Linked DNA regions of Homo sapiens: region 1 is linked to region 2. Evidence: fine-mapped expression QTL. A gene starts in region 2. The other region holds a variant in brackets. All regions are shown on one strand. Distances are between the middles of the regions. Region 1 overlaps ZNF84 (zinc finger protein 84). Region 2 holds the start of ZNF84 (zinc finger protein 84).

Region 1 (5,381 bases), 26 kb before region 2:
GGAGGTGGGTTTTTCCCATGCTGTTCTTGTGGTAGTGAATAAATCTCATGAGATCTGATGGTTTTATACGGGCAGTTCCTCTGTACACGCTCTCCTGCCTGTCACCATGTAAGACGTGTCTTTGCTCCTCCTTCATTGTGAGGACTTCCCAGCCATGTGAAACTGTGAGTTCATTAAACCTCTTTTTCTTTATAAATTACCCAGTCTGTGGTATTTCTTTATAGCAGTATGAGAACGGACTAATACAGTGGCTACTGCTGAAAGCCACTGATGCTCTACATAAAGATAACAAACAGTTGAGGACAAGTAATAGACAATTGATTGCAGTTGTGAAAGTTAGAGGGCCTTTGGCTGCACAAAAAGCAGCTCACATCTGCTGTATCACAAGTGGTTATTAGGTCCTTGCTTGCAGGAAAAAAAAACTATTGCATGAGGAAAGGCCACGTGGAAGCCTCAAACTACAATCCACCCAAGATAGTAAATAAGAACAATCTCTGGGGGGATAGTAGAGATTAGAGACACCCTTCAGGATATAAAAGATTTAGGAGTGATGGTTCCCATCATATCTCTAGTAAAAACTACTCATAACTGCAATTCAACTTCAAGCTCAACTAAGTAGTAGTCCTGATCACAGCCATTAGGCCAGATGTGATATTTCCACTAGAAGAGATTAATACAGCCTCAGATACATGGTATATGGCCACTGATCCAGTAAATGCATTTTAATATCCCGATTCAGAAAAAAGCATAAATGTTTGCATTCATATCAAGTGAAATGATGTGGGCAATGAAATGAACAACATACACGGCCGGGCACAGTGGCTCATGCCTGTAATCCCAGCACTTTGGGAGGCTGAGGCAGGCAGATCACGAGGTCAGGAGATCGAGACCATCCTGGCTAACATGGTGAAACCCCATCTGTACTAAAAATACAAAAAATTAGCTGGGCATGGTGGCAGGTGCCTGTAGTCCCAGCTACTCGGGAGGCTGAGGCAGGAGAATGGCGTGAACCTGGGAGGCGGAGCTTGCAGTGAGCCGAGATCGTGCCACCACACTCCCGCCTGGGCGACAGAGTGAGACTCTGCCTCAAAAAAAAAAAAAAAAAGAAAAGAAAGAAAAACAATGTACACAAAATGGACAATGATATAACTAGTTTTGCTCCCAGAGCAATATTAACTCTCTCAACCTCAGAGCTGTGGTTATGGGAAGCACAAGGTCCCCCTAGAGGATCATCTGTGATCTTCCTGCTTCCACACTGCAGTACCCAAACCCATGTGTTCTTTCTCTTTGAAAACACAGCACCGTATAAAGGTCAAACATCAAGGATTAGCCCCAGAGGGGGCACTTTCCACCTGAGGACAGAGTGTTCTAAATTATAAACTACAGATACAGCATGGAACTTTGTACCCTTGTGTCCAAGGACCAGCATGCCAGAAAAGCCACTCTTTGCTGGGGCATTGACACTGATCATCAGCAGGTATGGCTGCTGTTACACAACAGGGCAGGAGAAAAAAGGAGTGGAACTCAGGTGGCCCTCCTAGGTGCCTCTTTGAACTTCCTTGCCCCATTGTGATGTAAGTGGACAAATACAGCAACTTGGATCTGAAAAGGACATGGTGGCCAGGGCTCTGACCCCCTCAGGAATAAGGGTCTGGGACAAGCTACCACATAAGCCACTTATGTCCACAGAGGTGCTAACAGGGTGTGATGAGAATCTACAGTGACTAATACAGAAAGCAACTGCAACATTAGGGGCTGTGGTTTGTCCTATGAATCTTCCTTTTCTTAGTGTCTCTTCAGAGAGAGCCCCACCAGAATCCTAGAGCAGCAGCTTCCCAAATGTAACATAGACAAGGGGATCTAAGTGGTGGGAAGGATGGACTGTGTGATCAGAAACATGCATTATGACTCAGATCTCTCTTCAAGGAGGGACTTACCCAGGGCAGGGAGAGTCATCAGCAGAGAACCTCCACTTTTGAAGCTGGCCTCAGCTGAAATGAGCTGCTTCACCTAAGAAATCAGCAGCATCACTGAAGAAAAGAGCTGCTTCACCTAAGGCTGCTTCCTTCCCAGGGCAGCCTGAGTCTGGGTGATGGGGTGAGCAATGCAGGGTTGTAAGGGCCTGGCCGTCTTGGTTCAACACGAGGCACTCCAATGGGCAGTACATGTTCCAGAGTTCCCTGCTGGCTCCAATGCAGTGCAAATTGACTTCTTCCTCAGCTCAATGTTTTCTTTCTTCTTCTTCAATCATTTCACAGCTGTTGATCCTCAGTAGACATCTTGCACCCAAACTTCTCAGTAACCACTTCCAGAGAACAAGTTACGACATAGCCTGATTTCCTCTGTTAGAAATATTTGGGTTGTAACAAACACAACTTGAGCCAGATGAAGCAAACATGAGAATTTATTAGGATATTTGGAGTATCTCACAGAAGAATTCAACAATCAAGACATGAAAAGGGCAGAGGTGGACCTGAACATGAAGACCAGAAGAACCAGGTACTGGAACACAATCGGGACTCTTTCTTGATTTTGCTTTCATCATGGCTTCATTCTTCTCTCTCACTGCAGACCATGTTTCTCCATGTGGCAGAAAACAGCCACTCACTGCA[C/T]CCACATTTAAATATAGCTTGTGATGCAAAAATTACACAGACAAAAAAGATAGTACTAGCTTTCTAGAAGCTTTCTAGTGGGAAAGATAAAACATGCAATGATTATATTATCACAGTGAGAAACACACGTACAGGTTCATATAGATTCAATAGGCATTAACAAGGAACAAGGGCATTTCAATTGCAGATTTGCAAAAACATAAGTGATAATAGAAATCTCAAGGAACTACAAGTTGTTCACAGAGGCCAGAAAATATTGCATAGGAGGAAAAAGTTTTCAGAAATGATAGATAGATAGGCATTGGTTTATACAAAAGTCCTTACATACCATAAGGAGAATGTTACACTTTAAGTCCACAATAAGCCACACGATATTTCAACATGAGGCATGTGAAATCAGGGTTGCATTTAAAAATAATCACTATGTATACATGTGAAAAATGGACTGAAAAATGATAGCAAGGTGCAGAAAACATGCATGCATCTGCAAGGGTTATGGTTGGTTATCAGCAGTTAGGCCAGGGGTAGGTGTTGAACATCTGAAAGCTCATTGGTACCTGTATAGACTAATAAGACCTCTGAAATTGACAACCTGGACATAGATTGCTGGAATGACCAAATGACTGCAGAGGTCTCAAATGCAGATTCCAAATGCCTACTGCTGTAGATTTTGCTAGAAAGTTACTTTTGATAAATACGGCATTCTGTGGGTGCATTTTATGTCAACATTCTAAAAGTGATGTTCCCGAAACCAAAGTATCACAAATATATGGACCCATAGGTAATGATGTCAGATCCTGCAAGAAAAAGTCACACAGAAGGCAATCCTGATACAGGTCTCAAAATTCAGTCTGGACCTTAAGGAAAACCCACTACTTAGTAAAAGGAAAACAATGTCAATTGTCCTTTGTAGAACTGTGCACAATTCCAGGTCAGTGGGAAAATCCAGGCAGTAAGAGAATAAGAAAAGATGATGCTTCCTGTATTTGGCCTCCTTTAGTATGCTATCTCAATGTACCTTATTGTGCTCCATAAAATCACAAATAAATCCAGTCTAACTTTAAAACTTTCTTCTTGATGTAGAATTTGTGGTAGGAAACAATAAGGGGCAATGCAGAGACACAGATTTGTGGTTTACAAGGTAATTTCAAAAACACATTAAAAAATCTCTAATTGCAGAATCAGAGCTCTCATGACACTTTAGAAGGTGAGTTCTAGTGATTACTGCACAACGTATTTGAACCTCTGCATCAGTTTTTAACTAGACCTCTGCTGTCAGCATCAATCCTCCCCATAACACCTGACATTTAGAAAAAAATGTTTGTTCTTGGGCAATCAATAGGCTAATGTTGAAGTTCCATTATCTAGTGTAGGAAGTATCAGGTTTAACTGCTTAATAGTTAATGGAATAATCTAGAATTTCCAAGACCTAATAAATCAATCTCTGGGATTGGAAAGAGAATGGTGATAGATGGAAAGAAAAAATAGGGCAAAAATCACAAAGTACAACATCACCCTGTAACTGTTCATTTGCATTAGTTGGTCTCCCACGTCTAGTAAAATGAATTTGAGATATTAAAAAGTAGGAAGTTCTTTTTCTTTTCTTTTTTTGACAGAGGCTCGCTCTGTCGCCCAGGCTGCACAATCTTGGCTCACTGCAACCTCTGCCTCTCAGGTTCAAGTGATTCTCCTGCCTCAGCCTCCTGAGTAACTGGGATTACAGGCACGCACAACCATGCCCGGCTAATTTAAGACAGGGTTTTGCCATGTTGGCCATGAACATGCTGGTCTTCAACTCCTGACCTCAAGTGATCCACTTGAGGTCTCCACTTGAGGTCCTCAGCCTCCCAAAGTGCTGGGATTACAGGCATGAGCCACTGTGCCCAGCCAGGAAGTTCATACACTTGAGTATGAACAAAAAGTTGGAAAATTAAATGCTTTAAAATTACAGCATGGAAAGACAGAATTATTTGGCTGTTGAACTGGTATTCTGGTTTAGAAAATTATTCATTTATTTAAAATTCCAACTTTCCCAAAATGTTGCAAAATCAATAATTAAAGGAGAAAATATTGTTTAAGGTAAAGGTGCAAAATACCATACTGATACAACAATTTGAACATAAAAGGAGAAGTCTTGAGTTTTTCTAAGTTTGCAATCAAGCTCAATATTGGACTTTTCTAAATTTCATCAGCATACAAAAAATATTAACTTTGCCAAGCAACATTATTGAGAGAACATTACAAAATCCTTACTTAGCTAAGGGATGGTTCATGCATTTTTATGGAAATATATAATGGTAAGTTCTCAATGTGAAGTTTTCCATGGGGATAATGCAACTAGTGAAACAAAGTCAAATACATTTCAAATGATAAAATGGAAATCTTGTTTCCTTATACAGATAGTTCCTGACTTAAGAGGATGTGACTTACAGTTTCTCAACATTACAATGGTATCCATACACTACTATTTTTCACCTTCAGTATTCAATAATTACATCAGATATTCAACACCTTTTTATAAAATAGATGATGCATTAGAATGTGTTCTGAGAATGTTTAAGGTAGGCTACGCTAAGCTATGATGTTTGGTAAGTTGGGTGTATTAAATGCATTTTTGACTTACAATGTTTTCAACTTACAATGGGTTTATTGGGAGGTAACCCCACTGTAAGTCCAGGATCATCTGTACTTTTCCAGGGACCACAGAAATTTGCTAGAAGATAAAATAGGCATCCTTGAATGTCAAAAATGTTTTTCCAGCACAAAATT
Region 2 (5,381 bases):
CTTTTAACTGACAAATTGAATACATTTAATGTTTATTGTGGTTACTGTTTTTCCCCCCTCCTTTCTTGCCTTCAAAGCCTCAATTTCTGTACTTGCTAAAATGGTGAAGATAAAGTGGACCTCACAATGGGAGTCTAAGAAACAAATGAGGTGTTAAAAGGAAAGCGACTGGGGCCTTGTAATAACAGTTACAGCTAACATTCCAGTGCTTTCTGTATGTGAGACAATATACTAAGCATTTTAAATTTAACTCATGCACAACCCTATAAGGCGTTTAACATAATCTCCATTTTACAGAGAGAAAACTGGGACAATGAGTGATTGTAAAATGTGCCTGTGATTGCACATTTAGTAAGTAGCAAAATTCAAATGTTAATTCTCTATCCTGCTATGTTCAAAGCATGAATACTAAAGTCATATTGTCATTTGTGCATATCTACATGCACAAACACACACAACATAAATCCTGGAGTCAGCTCCTATTCCCATGCACACATTCAGTCACTAATTCCCACAAAAATATAAATGAAGGACGCCCTGCCTCAACTGTATCACACTAACAAGCAGCACTTTCTTTTTCATGCCTTTTTGTGGTTCAAACTTCAGTGCCAACTCAGAAACACACAGCAGTTTCTCCCAGTTATACAAGAAATGACTCCTTTATACCTTAAATTGTGATAATACATAAATCTTAGAACAAAAGCTGGCACACAGTCATACGAAACATATACTAGCTATAATTATTATTATAAAAGTAATATATGATGGCAAAATATAAAAAACATACACAAGCTAAATAAGAACTATTATCTATGATCTCACCACAGGTAACCATTCTTAGGATGATGGAAACTATTGTGATATTTTTCATACAATGGAAGCATATGGTCATATTTAAAAGCTGTTTTTGTTTTTTTCCCATTATGTGAAGAACATCTTTCCAGGTCAATAACCTTATTTCTGTAAGATATAAACAACTCACATAAAATAACAAAAAAATAAAATCCGACTCATAATTGACAAAATACATAAAATATGTAGGAATATCAAGACCCATATGAAGCATACTAAAAACACCAATGAGAACTATAAAAATAGAATTAAAGAAATTTATAATTCGATTTTATTCTGGGATAGGAAGACTTCAGATTGTGAAGATAATTTGACCTCAAATGATTTATATAACTCATCGACTCCAATCAGAATCTCAAAATTCTAAAGTTTATGTGTAAGAAAAAAGGTTCAAGAACAATTCGGACACTTTTTTTTTTTTTTTGACAGGGTCTTACTGTGTTGTCCAGGCTGAAGTGCAATGGCATAACCATAGCTCACTGCAGCCCTGAACTCCTGGGCTCAAGTGATCCTCCTACCTCAACCTACAGAGTAGCTGGGGCTACAGGCATGCCCTACCACACCGGGCCTGGATGCTTTTGGAAATACAAAATAATGAGTGTGAACAGGCCCACTGTAATACATACAAATTATAATCATTATAACATTTGACACTGGCTCCAGAGAAGTTATACAGATGAAAAAAAGCAAACTGTCTAAATATGCAAGAGTCAGCATGCAATAAATGTAGCATTTCAAAGCCATCAGTAAAATTAAATTATTTAATGAATACAAGAATATTTGAAAGAAAATAAACGTAGCTATTTCATACAACTACTTTCAGTGGGTTAAATTTTAAAATAATGGAAACCCTAAGAATGTCTACAAAAAAAAACCACAGGTGAATGAATATATGTATAATTTGAGGGGAGATTTCGCTACACCATACCAAAAGCAAAAGTCACTTAAAAAATTTAAAACAGTCAATAAATATAACCATTAAAAAATACACGGCCAGGAATGGTGGCTCACACCTGTAACCCCAGCGCTTTAAAAGCCTCCTTCGATAGCGGCAGAGCCAGGCTGCTGGTGGATGCGGTCCAGCAGGGCAGCCGCTCCTTAGGGCCACGGCGCGGCAAGCGGGCTGGCCCGAGGTCGAGGCTAAACGCGCCCGAGGCTAAACGCGCCCGAGGCTGGCGCCTCCACGCCCGCCTGAAAGGACGCCCAGGAGCGGCGCCTCCGGAAAGGCCGTGCCCGCCCCACAGCCCAGAATCCGCGCAGCTCCGCGGCCCACGGCATCTTCACGACCCGGCCCAGCCCCAACCCGCCCCAGACCCGCATCCGCGCGCGGACGCCCAGGGCCTTGAAGCCGAAGCTCCCCGCGGCCACTCCCGCGCGCCTCCCCCGCCATTCCCGGAGCCCCCAGCGCCGGGCCCGCAATAAACTCACTGAACTCACAAAAGACGCCGCCGCCGAGTCGCGCCCGCGCGCCCGCGGCCTCGCGATCACGTGACACCGCCCGTCCCCCGTGTCCCGCGCACGCGCCCAAACCGTCGGCCTTTGTGCGCTCCCGGGCGGCTCCGAACGGGCCGGGACGAGTCGGGGACTGCACACGCGCACACTCGCACGCGCGCACACGCGTACACTCCCCTCTCACGTGGCAGCGAAGGACAAAGAGGAAGAACGGGCCACCTGCAAGCATTACCAAGAGTGCATGTGCGCATGCGCGAAGGAAGGAGCCCCGCGAACTCAACTTCCCACAGTGCCCCGCGTCCGGAAGTGCCTGTCGCTTGGAGACGGAGTGACTCCAAACGGGCTCACACGGTTTTCTGAGAAACATAAAGGGAAACCGAATCCACCAATATATATATATATTTTCTTGAGACGGCGTCTCGCTCTGTCACCCAGGCTGGAGTGCAGTGGCGTGATCTCGGCTCACTGCAAACTCCGCCTCCCGGGTTGACGCCATTCTTCTGCCTCAGCCTCCCGAGTAGCTGGGACTACAGGCGCCCGCCGCCACGCCCGGCTAATTTTTTTGTATTTTAGTAGAGACGGGGAGTCACCGTGTTGCCCAGGCTGGTCGCGAACTCCTGAGCTCAGGCAATCCGCCCGCCTTGGCCTCCCAAAGTGCTAGGATTACAGGCGTGAGCCACCGCGCCCGGCCCACCAATACTCAATTGGTTTGACTTCAGTTGAGGAAACCAGAAAAAATTTAAATATATTTATGGAAAGAAGGTAAGAATTAACAGAAAAAAGTAAAGTTGATCCATAACTGGAGTCGTAGGGAGAATTATAGGTAAGTCACGATGCTTATGACAGCAAGATGGGGCCGGGGAGATGGAGGAGAGAGATGAAAAAAGAGAAATAACCATAGACACATAGGAAATTGAATGAAAATCCGCTCTATACTAATAAATTTGATAATTTGTGACACAAATGATTCTCCAGGACAACATGGGCCAAATTTGACCCAATTTTATCCACAATTTGAAGACAAATTCAGAGATCCTTTGCCAGAAAGCATCATAATGAGTTGCTTAGTGAATTGCTTCAAACATCCAGTGATTAGAGAATTCTTATATTTATTCCCAGAGGTAGAACTCACCAGTGAAGTACTAGCATAAAAACAGACGCATGGACCAATGTGGAACAGCGTAGAAAAACCAGAAATAACCCCATGCATATACAGTCAACTAATCTTAGGCAAGTCAACTAATCTTGTGTCAAGAATACACGATGGGGAAAGGACAGTCGCTTCAATAAATAGCGTGAGGAAACCGGATATCCAAATACTGCTACGCAAAAGACCTCATTGCCCGATGTGCACAGAAGCCAATACTATGGCACCAGGCGTTTGAGAAAAGAAAAGCTTAATTGCGAGTTGACCAACAAAGTGACAGGAGTTTAGTTCAAATCTATCTCTCTGTGCTGCCCTTAAGGCAGCACTATTGTGAAAAAAGGTTTAGAGGGTGGATTCTGGGATTCACAGGTGAATGGTGAAGGAAAAAGGAAGTCTGGAAAGTCCCCGACCATGTGCAGTTGTCTCTTCAAGCCTCTTCTTGGGTCCCATGTGCAAATTAAGGTAGAGTTAGTGTGAAAAGTGCAGTGGAAATTCAGGCTGCGACATCAGCAAGCTCATTCTGCATGGACTCCGTTTGGTTATATTGGTTTCAACTGATTTCAGCCAGTTGTATTATATTACAAACGGAGTTTCAGCAAACTGTTTCTTATCTGCCATCCTGTAAGCTCAAGAATTTCTGTTAGCCGGACGCGGTGGCTCACGCCTATAATCCTAGCACTTTGGGAGGCCGAGGCGGGCAGATCACCTGAGGTCAGGAGTTCGAGACCAGCCTGGCCAACATGGTGAAACCCTGTCTCTACTAAAAATACAAAAATTAGCTGGGCGTGGTGGTGCACACCTGTAATCCCAGCTCCTCGGGAGGCTGAGGCAGGAGAATCGCTTGAACCTGGGAGGTGGAGATTGCAGCGAGCCGACATCGCGCCACTGCACTCCAGCCTGGGCGACAAGAGCGAGACTCCATCTCAAAAAAAAAAAATTCGTTAGTCACTGGTTTCTTTAACTATTTGGGGGCATGGTTTCACAACTTCTTCTTCTTCTTTTTTTTTTTTTTTGAGACAATCCCTCACCAGAATCTAGGCCTTTTCTAACCTGCTCCTCCAGACTCTTCCAAACTCTGCCCATTACCCAGTTCCAAAGCCACTTCCACATTTTCAGGATTTATTATTAGCAACAGCCCCACTCCTCAGTACCAATTTTCTGTCTTAGTTTATTTTCTATTGCTGTAACTGAATACCTGACACTGAATAATTTATAAAGAAAATGAATTTATTTCTTACAGTTCTGGAGACTGGGAAGTCCAAGGTTGAGGGACACTTCTGGTAAGGACTTCCTTGCTAGCAGGACTCTCTGCAGAGCCCCAGGTCAGTCCAGGGTGCACACTGTGAAGGGGGATCAAGCAGCCGAGCCCATTTCTCTCTTTCTCTTCCTATAAAGCCACTAATGCCCACCCTCATGAGCTCATCTAATCCTAGTTACCTCCCAAAGGTCCCACCTCTCAATTGCCATAGGCAGCTTTCCCACTCTCCTAACACTGTTACAATGGGGGTTAGTTGCAACGTAATTTTCAGAGGGCATAGACATTCAAATCATAGCAGTATATATCCAAAATAAATAAAATTAAAAGATATCTCAGCGATATCTGCACTCCCCTGTTCATTGCAGCATTATTCACAATAGTGAAGATGTAGAAACAACCTAAGCATCTATCAAAAGATAAAGAAAATGTAGTATACGTACACAATAGAATATTACTTGGCCTCAAAAAAGGAGAAAATTCTGTGATTTACTACAACATGGATGAGCCTGGAGGACATTATGCAAAGTGAAATACACATAGAAATACACGGATACAGAAAGAAGATACTACACGATCTCACGTAGATGTGGAATCTTAAAAAGTCGAACTCATAGAAACAGTGGAAGAGTGGTTACCAGAGGTCAGGTGGCAAGTAGGGGAAATGAGGAGATG

What was found.
Region 1: its variant is fine-mapped to the expression of ZNF84 in whole blood (TOPMed, PIP above 0.99). The same link has a PIP of 0.9 or more in B cells, breast, gastroesophageal junction, monocytes after interferon gamma, sun-exposed skin and thyroid.

What each region holds. Positions count from the first base shown.
Region 1 is chr12:133,060,305-133,065,685 of GRCh38, reverse strand. It overlaps ZNF84 (zinc finger protein 84), which reads right to left. Exons shown (of 5, transcript NM_001289971.2): 5 at 2,387-5,381. Among named protein-coding and RNA genes, the nearest start is that of ZNF140, 18 kb to the left of the region's middle. The variant C/T (reference allele first, on the strand shown) is at 2,613.
Region 2 is chr12:133,034,454-133,039,834 of GRCh38, reverse strand. ZNF84 (zinc finger protein 84) reads right to left here and starts at 2,326. Exons shown (of 5, transcript NM_001289971.2): 1 at 2,290-2,326. It overlaps ZNF84-DT (ZNF84 divergent transcript), which reads left to right and starts at 2,613. Exons shown (of 3, transcript NR_110091.1): 1 at 2,613-3,066. RefSeq lists a silencer at 2,220-2,399 and an enhancer at 2,620-2,709.